2 separate regions of the Homo sapiens genome follow, and region 1 is linked to region 2. The links come from fine-mapping of genetic effects on gene expression. A gene starts in region 2. The other region holds a variant in brackets. All regions are shown on one strand. Distances are from middle to middle.

What was found. PIP is the estimated chance that this variant, and not a neighbour inherited with it, causes the effect.
Region 1: its variant is the best candidate, but not a certain one, in a credible set for the expression of NXPE4 in lung (TOPMed, PIP 0.83).

What each region holds. Positions count from the first base shown.
Region 1 is chr11:114,701,321-114,705,731 of GRCh38, forward strand. It overlaps NXPE2 (neurexophilin and PC-esterase domain family member 2), which reads left to right. Exons shown (of 6, transcript NM_182495.6): 4 at 2,671-2,732. Among named protein-coding and RNA genes, the nearest start is that of NXPE2, 25 kb to the left of the region's middle. The variant C/T (reference allele first, on the strand shown) is at 2,777.
Region 2 is chr11:114,593,164-114,597,574 of GRCh38, forward strand. NXPE4 (neurexophilin and PC-esterase domain family member 4) reads right to left here and starts at 2,623. Exons shown (of 6, transcript NM_001077639.2): 1 at 2,429-2,623; 2 at 1,501-1,606. The coding sequence starts at 1,596. It also overlaps a transcript of NXPE2 not described here.

The DNA of each region.
Region 1 (4,411 bases), 110 kb after region 2:
TGAAGCCTGGGTTGAAGGTACCATCCTTGCACAGTTGCTGGCTGTGTCTCAGGAAATCCAAAGTCCCTAGTCTGGCAGACTGGCACATACTTTGGGTCCTAATCAGGCTTCTCAAGGGGGCTGTGCTCATGACAGTAATCATGATAGTAAGCTGCTTTATTTCCAAATAGACATAAGTCCTTCCCAGATCCCCTGCTCTATTCAAGCTATTAAGTTTTTTTCTCCTACTGCATGGAAATAGAGATTTCAGTCTCCCTACAGGTGATGTAGTGCATGTGCAAGGAACAGCTGATTACACATCCAAGAAGTCTCATGGACCATTCTATTGCTAAGCTCTAGGGTCCCTTCCTAGACCCAAGCCCAATTCTTTGACATCTTTCCTTCTCACGAATACAGGGACTAAGCCAGTTTCTGTTTCATTTGTAACATAGTACCGTTAACCCTTGAACAACCCAGATTTGAACTGCACAAATCCACTTATATTCAAAGCATTTTCAATCAAATGTGGATCAAAAATATAATATTCACAGGATGCAAAACCTAATATATGGAGAGCTGACTTTTCACATACTTGGGTTCCGTGGGGCTGAATGCAGGACTTAAGCATATGCTGATTTTTGTAGATGTGGTGGGGGTCCTGGAACCAATCTCCCACATATACTGAGGGATGACTGTAAATATATTTTCCCACCTGGGTTCTCTCCCTCAACCTTGGCTGAAGAATCAGAAATGTTACTTCCTAGGATATTTATTTCTTCAAATTAAAAAAGTCTTCTTCTTTTTAAGAGTTTTGTGGATAATCGTGATAAAAACATAAATGAGGAGTTACCATAGGAGAAGACATCACATAGGTAACACAGTTGTTCACTATTCTGTTAGTTTCTATTATGGTCTAATTAATTATAGACCCCTTTTTAAAATTTAATGCACATACACAATTACAAAAACAGGAGACATTAAAATGAATTCCTTTATAACATTAATACATGGTTTTAATCCTAATTTTAATGTAGCATCAAATTTTTCTTTGGTAACCAAATTTACAAGGTAGCCGGGTCTCAATCTCTTTTGTTATCCTCAGCCTTACCTGAGAAAGGTATGGGAGAATAGAGGTTTGGTCAGATTAAATTTCTTAAAGACAAATCTTACTCTTGTGCCAAAAATAGGTCTGATGGGATCCTCAGTAATAATAATTGCAATGATTTGTTGAGCACCTACTATATGCCAACATTTATGTTAGATGCCTCCCTTGTATTATACCATTTATCCTCAGTAAAATACTCTGGAGTGACTATTATTATGCTCATTTTGAAGATGAGAAAATTTAGGCATATTAAATAGGTTGGCCAAAGTCACATATCCAGTTGAATTGCAGAGTCAGAACGGGATTCCCAGTCGATCTTATTCTAAAGTCAATGGGCCATAGTGCTGTCTCCCATGACTCCACCACTCCATGCAGCCATCACGCCCAGCCACCCTGACCTCTCTTCAGTCCTCTGGCCTTCTTGATGAAGGGGATATTATCCTCACTTGACCCAAAAACTCATTTCCTGAGATTCAGGCAATTCTTCTCAATCTTAGAAAGGGCTTTCTCTATCCCTTTTGAAGGTTTCTGTGGCTCTGGCTCTGAAAGGGCCTACCTTCCCCCAGATGGATTTCATTCCGATAGAGTGAATTCAATTTGGCTGGACATAGTCACCATAGTCATTGGGACTGATACCTTGAGACGAAGCTCACTGTGCTGGCACTCGAAATATTATACTGAATAATATTGACTTGATTCCTATCTGAGGGAGATAACAGACTATGAAAAATAGACTCCTGGGAACTCAAGAAGGTGAAGAGTAGATGAAGATGAAGCTGGCAATGTAGACACTCATAGGAGATTTTTATACCAGTTAGGGAGCTTTTTCTGTAGGTTGAGGACAGAAAGTCATGGGAAAGTTTTACATAGGGGAATAAAACAGGTAGCATAGGGTTTGTATTTAGGTGGGATAAACCAAAAGGGCAGAAAGATAGTATTATAATAACTTAGGACAGGGTTCTCAAAGTAATGTCCGTAGACCATTGGCTTTGGGTTAGCCCAAGAGCTTGTTATTATAGAAATCCAAATTCTTGAGAATTTACCCCATAACTGTTGAATCAGAAATTCTGGGTGTGAGGCTCAGCAATTGGAGTTGTAATAAAGTACTGCAGGTAATTCTGATGCACGCTCAAGTTTGAGAAACACTAGCCTTGGAAAGGGTTGATGAGGGCCTGAATTACTACAGGTGGAAATGTGGAGAGGGTAGTTTGTGGTAGAGAGCCATTTAGAAGGTAAAATTAAAATAAGCATAGATAGATAGATAGATAGATAGATAGATAGATAGATAGATAGATGATAGATAGATAGATAGACAGACAGACAGATAGATAGATAGATGTTAGATAGATTTGATGGATTGCGTATGGAGGGTGAATGACTTTCTCTGGATCTCTAGATTCCCTGCCATTAGGAGAGGAACAGCTTTCCAGAATCCTGACCCATTAACTTCCCCAGGATATCTTAAATATATCAAAATAAGGGGGGAAAGGCATTTGGAGAAGAGAGGTTTAATCCATCTAAACCAGTGATTCCTACTTTATTATCTGGGCAGATATTAAGCTAATTTATTTTCCCATTTCTTGCAGGTCCAACATAGGAGTTGAAATGATGAAGAACTTTACCCCCATTGAGGTCATACCATGCAACAGTAAGTCTGGAGTGTTGTTGTCTGCCATGATCACAATTTATCCA[C/T]GGAAAGGACATGCTTACTTAGAGATATTTATTCCACATTAACGATTTGATCTCTCATTTCCTGGGACAAATTACATCAACCACCTTGGGTTTTAGAGAAGGGATTTTATTCTTGGAAATTATTTTCATATCGATTTAAACCAATTTTCATCCCAAGTCAGATATAAAAGGCTAGGGAAACCATTAACTTCAGTGGCACTGCCTCAAAATGTACAGGCTATTTGTATTTAAATTTAGATTTATTCCTCCAGAGCCAATGATCAGGTGCTGGTGCTATGTGAAAAATGTCTCAGATGAGCTGCACAGATTCAGAGTTAGGACATTTCTTTGGTGGTTTCTAATTTCTCATTTAGCCAAGCCATCTTACTTGAAGTTCTATGAACTAGAATTTCTGTGAATTTTTTCTCAGTTTAATCATATGAACTTTAGTGGTCAACACAAAACCATTTCACTCATAGAAGTGATGATTCTGCTACACGGGAAATGAAGTGAATTTCAAAATTAAAGTAAAGCAAAGGACTTCCATTATAACAATCAACGGGGTGTACCATTACTCATCACCCCTTTTTCATGCATTTAGCAAGTGTTTACTGAGGTCCTACTGTACAAAGAAATTTGCTAAACCCTGTGGAGAACATAAACACAAATAAATCATGAACCCAGATGTAAAGTTCACAATCTATGAAGAAGACAGATCCCTTCTCTGCTAGGGCAACTATCATTCACACCCAACTTTTACACTGAAGAAAGTTCTTAGATTCTTGAGGCAATTTGAATGTTTGTAACACCTCTTTTATTTCCCTCTTGCCTGGACAGTAATTTCTAGTAAAGTCAGGCAGTTTCTTGGAAGATAGTACCAGACTGTAATTTTTGGAGCCACTTACAAATCTGATGTTATTCAATACGAACAAATGTAAGTTCCTCAATGTGTACCCCATATCCCAACAATGCAGGTAGATGACAAAGAAGATGTGCATTTTAAGTGGTGAATATAGAAGTGGCCTCAGAAACTTACCTGGGGGAAAACTCAATAGGAGTCAGTAAATACAGTTTAGGCTATTTTAATAGAGGAGTGTTCAGAACAGGGAGGTCATGATCCTACTTTTTTCTGTGTCAGATCACACTGAGAATATTACATTCAGTTCTAGACATGACAATTAAGATTTAAGGATTTTAAAAAAAGTATTAGCCAGAGAAGATGATTCTGGGACACACAAAATAAACAATGTGACACACTCATTTCATAAACACATTCAAGCTTCTTTTCCTGGATTAGTAGTTTGAGGAAGATGAGATTTACAATTCAGCGAGGCCAATGTCATTGGTGTAATATTTGGCAGGGCCACTGTGCCCTGCTATTTCACGGCCACACATTTCCTCCTGACTCTGGCTGGCTGTTCCACAGCAGCGTGGCTCTGGGGACAAGGTGGAGCCCAGGGACACATTGCAAATGCACAAGAGTCAACAGATCCCCACTCCAAGAAAAACTATTCAAGAAAAGCTATTTAATTCACCCTTTTAACATGATCTTATTAAATAAATATTTGTGGAAGAGAGGAAGGCAAAATAGAGCTGAAGAGAAAGGGGGAGGAAAAAGAGGAAAAGGAAGGCAAAAATGAGAAACATTTTTCCAAA
Region 2 (4,411 bases):
AGATAGACAAATGGGATTATATAAAACTAAAAACTTCTTCACAGCAAAGGAAGCAATCAAGTGAGTGAAGAGTTAACCTACAGAATGGGAGAAAATGTTTGCAAACTATCCATCTGACAGGGGATTACTATCCAGAGTATTCAAGGAACTCAACCAACTCTATAGCAAAAATATTTAACAATCCAATTAAAAATTGGGCAAAAGATCTGAATAGACACTTACTAGAAGATATGCAAATGGCAAACAAGTATATGAAAAGGTGCTCAACATCATTGATCATCAGAGAAACACAAATCAAAACTACAGTGTAATATAATCTCACTCCTGTTAAAATGGCTTTTATCCAAAAGACAGATAGTAACATATGCTAGTGAGGATGTGGAGAAAAGGGAACACTTGTACACTGTTGGTGGGAATGTAATTAGTACAACCACTATAGAGAACAGTTTGGAGGTTTCTCAAAAAACTAAAAATAGGCTACCATATGATCCAGCAATCCCACTGCTAGGTATATACCCAAAATAAAGGAAATCAGTATATCCAAGAGCTATCTGAACTCCCATGTTTATTGCAGCACTGATAACAATAGCCAAGATTTGTAAGCAACCTAAGTGTCCATCAACAGACAAATACATAAAGAAAATATGGTATATATACACAACGGAGTAGTATTCAGTTATAAAAAGAACAAGATTCTGTCATTTGCAACAACATGGATGGAACTGAAGGTCATTATGTTAAGTGAAATAAGCTAGGCACAGAAGACAAACTTTGCATGTTCGTTTTTATTTGTGGAAGTTAATACTTAAAATAATTGAAGTCATGGAGTTAGAGAGTAGAATGATGGCTACCAGAGGCTGGGAAGGGTGGTGGGGGCATGGAGGAGAAGTGGGGTTAGTTAATGAGTACAAAAATATGATTAGACAGAATGAATAAGATCTAGCATTTGATAGTATAACAGGGTAACTACAATCACCAATAATTTATTTTACATTTAAAAATAGCTAAAAGAGTATAATTGTCTTGTTTGTAGCACAAGAAAGGATAAATTCTTGAGGCAATGAATACCCCATTTACCCTGATATGATTACTATGTATTATATGCTTGTATCAAAATATCTCATCTACCCCATAAATACATACACCTACTTTGTACCCACAAAAATTAAAAATTAAAAACAAACAAATGAAAACCAAAAATATAGATATTCTGTTCTTCAGATGTTCCCTTAAAGAAAGTAAAAAGATGAGCTAAGCATTGAAGAAGATAGGTGCAATGCATTTATTTGTGACAAAGAAAGAATGTGTATGTGTGAACACACACACAGTATTTATCCTCTCACATATTGCTTAATGATTATCAGGTATGTTGTTTGGTATCTAGCTATTCAAACTCCCCTCCTATAATCTACAAGTCTTGTAGTTTAGCCTTTCCTAGAACAGATGAGGTAATAAGCAAAAATAAGCTTCTGTAAACCACATAAATAAAGCATTTCCTACCTTTGTGGAGTTCTGGAAAACTGTAAAAATGATCCAGGAGGCTAATATAAACAACAGTGCCAATAGTGACTTATAATTTATCATACTTATTTTCATGATTAGGATCCTACAAGAGACAATACAAAAACAAGCACAAAAACATACAACAAAACAGAAAAGCAAACAAACATGGGAAACATTTGAAATTTTTTTGGCTCATGATTACTTTTTAGCCTCAGATAAATAACTCCCAGAAATAAACCTTCACCCCCGCAAGCTGTACTTGGTATCTCCCAGGTGCTCTCTTTTAGCTATCTGCTTGTACATTCTACAGAACAGATAATTCATGGAGCCCACTGTGATCTTTAAGAAATCGAGCAGCTTAAGGGCCTGAAGGATGCAAGCTTGCTCGTGTCTAGATGAAGTCTCCAGACTATTTGTCACCTATCAGGTTCCCTGTTCTATTCCCTTAAACTCAAGGGCAGACACAAAATACTCCAGCAAATATTAACACTGAGAACCACATCATTACAGTGCCTGTTGAATGCAAATTAGTTTTTCTGTTTCATTAATGCCAATCTATTAATATGTCCTCCTTTTCTGTTTTAGCAGGCTTTCTAGCACCCCCTCAAGCTTGAAAAGAATTATTTTAAAACATTTCTTACTTAAAAAAATTTCAGGCTTTATCAGTATTTTTCCATGATTCATCTTAACATTTCTCTTTGCACCGGAATTCCAAGTTCTCTTTTAACTTGGAACTTTAAACTTTAACATCAGATTGCTTGAATGCTGCCTTTCTAAAACTTTCCATCCCTCAAAATTTACCCTCCCCTAGAAGCACCTTTCACCCCAGATCCCTAGTTTATACATGGGCATTAGATGTTTCTGCACCCAAAAATAAATGTCACACCTTTCCCTCACCTTCCCAATTTTACAAATTTTTTCATACCTTTAGTTTACAGATTGTTCAATCCCATACATAGACTCTCTGGCGAGCTAGGTGTTGAGAATTTCTTCTGAAGCCACCAGTGTGCTACTGGCATACCTCTTGTCTATACCAAAATAAATTGCAGATATAAGTTGCAGTTTGTTTACCTTTAGCATGGATTCACAACCTTCTGCTTGTTTCAGCTAAGACAGAAGTGTCAGCCACGTCAGCTCCACCTTAAGGAGGGGCCTGGATCACAAACTGTAGTTATTAGCTCAAGCAGAGGTAGGAAGGAGAAATGAAGTGCTCTGCATAGTAGGTTATATGATTTCAAATTCCTGAAGTTTTATAAGTCTAATTCTAGTTACAATAAATAACTGATGAGAAAAAGAGTGTTTGATAAATAATTGTATTTAGTTAATACAATTTGATAAATATTATAGTTACAATAAATAACTGATGAGAAAAAGAGCCACAAGTTTGAATGATTGAGAGTAATCATCAACAGAAAGTCAAACTTTCTAGTTTCCATCTAGCGTTATCATCAAGACCCAGTTGGCAGGATTCAAGTGCGTATTATCTCATACATAGTAGGTTTCAATACAATTTGCTGAATTGAACTAAAAGAACTTCAAATATAACATAGGGAAGACAATAATATTAATTGCATCTGAGACTAACAGAGTGACAGCTTGTAGTCATGGGTTTGAATCCATCTGGGATTTGTATTCTTGATCTGATGAAAACAGTGCTGGAAAGAGCAGGCACCCAGACAGCTGCACCAGTGCCCACAGGAAGCAGTAGCTGCTGGCCCTGTGGCTCCGTCCATGGGTTGATTACTGCTGCCCTACACAGGAGGGCATGCCCATCATCTTTCCATCTTATTTAAGCATGCCCATCAATCTTTCCAGTCTTATGTTTTTAAAAAGATGGAATCAAGACCAGTTTCACAACTGGTCTACTTGTTTCAGATCTTGAAATTCTTCCAACATCTTTGATCCTGTTCTACCAAATTCACCTTAACAATACTTCTTTATGTCTTTACTTGATGACCTTTGGAAAAGCTGTTTTAACATTATAAAACTGGGTGTAGGATTGTTAAATTTTTCACTGAGGAGCCTATAATAAGAAAAAAGTATTTGCAGTGGGTTTGGTTTGGCTGTTCCTTAGAGGACTGATGCCAGCAACCACCCAAGTTCACAGTCTACTCTGAGACATATAGATTTATAGATTTTAATTTGGTTTGGTCACATAGATTTTGAAATCTAATGTTAACCTGGAGTCTGTTTATGAGGTAGGCACAATAGATATGCTTGACTTAAAGAACCAAGAGTACAAAAGAAAGTTTGAATGATTTGTGCAGGTCATCTGATGAGCTTTGAAACAGGGCTGAATCCAAGATTCCTTTCATTTTGATCTCTAACACTGTGTGTTTATAGTGTATATGTATAACAACATAAGCACAAAGAATGAAAACTAGGAAGTTGGAAAAACTATCTTGAAGTCTTTATACCATGTGTGAATTGGGATAATATTACTTGAAGGATAGACTCTGATTAATTAAGAAAAATATTGTAACCCTGGTATAACCACTAAATATTTCTTTTAAAAAGTGGTATACATAATAAATCAACAATGAAGATTAAATGAAATAATAAAAAATGTTTGATTAGCCCAATAGAAGGAAAAGGAGGAAAAAAAGAAGTGGAACATAGCAAACTGTCAATATATTCTTAAATTCAAATATATGAACAGTGATCTGAAATCTGAATGATATTAACCAGGGGTGGACAAACTTTTTCTGTAAAGAATCAGATAGAAAATATTTTCGGAGAAAGAAACTATAAACAAGAAAATGTAATGGGTATATTAAAATTAACCTTGTGATATTCAGTTGGAATTAGAATAATCAGTATGCACTCAGTTTTTTGATGGATAAATATGCATTTTTATGCATACATGGGTTCATGCACACAGATGTATATTTTCAAGCTCTGTCCATAG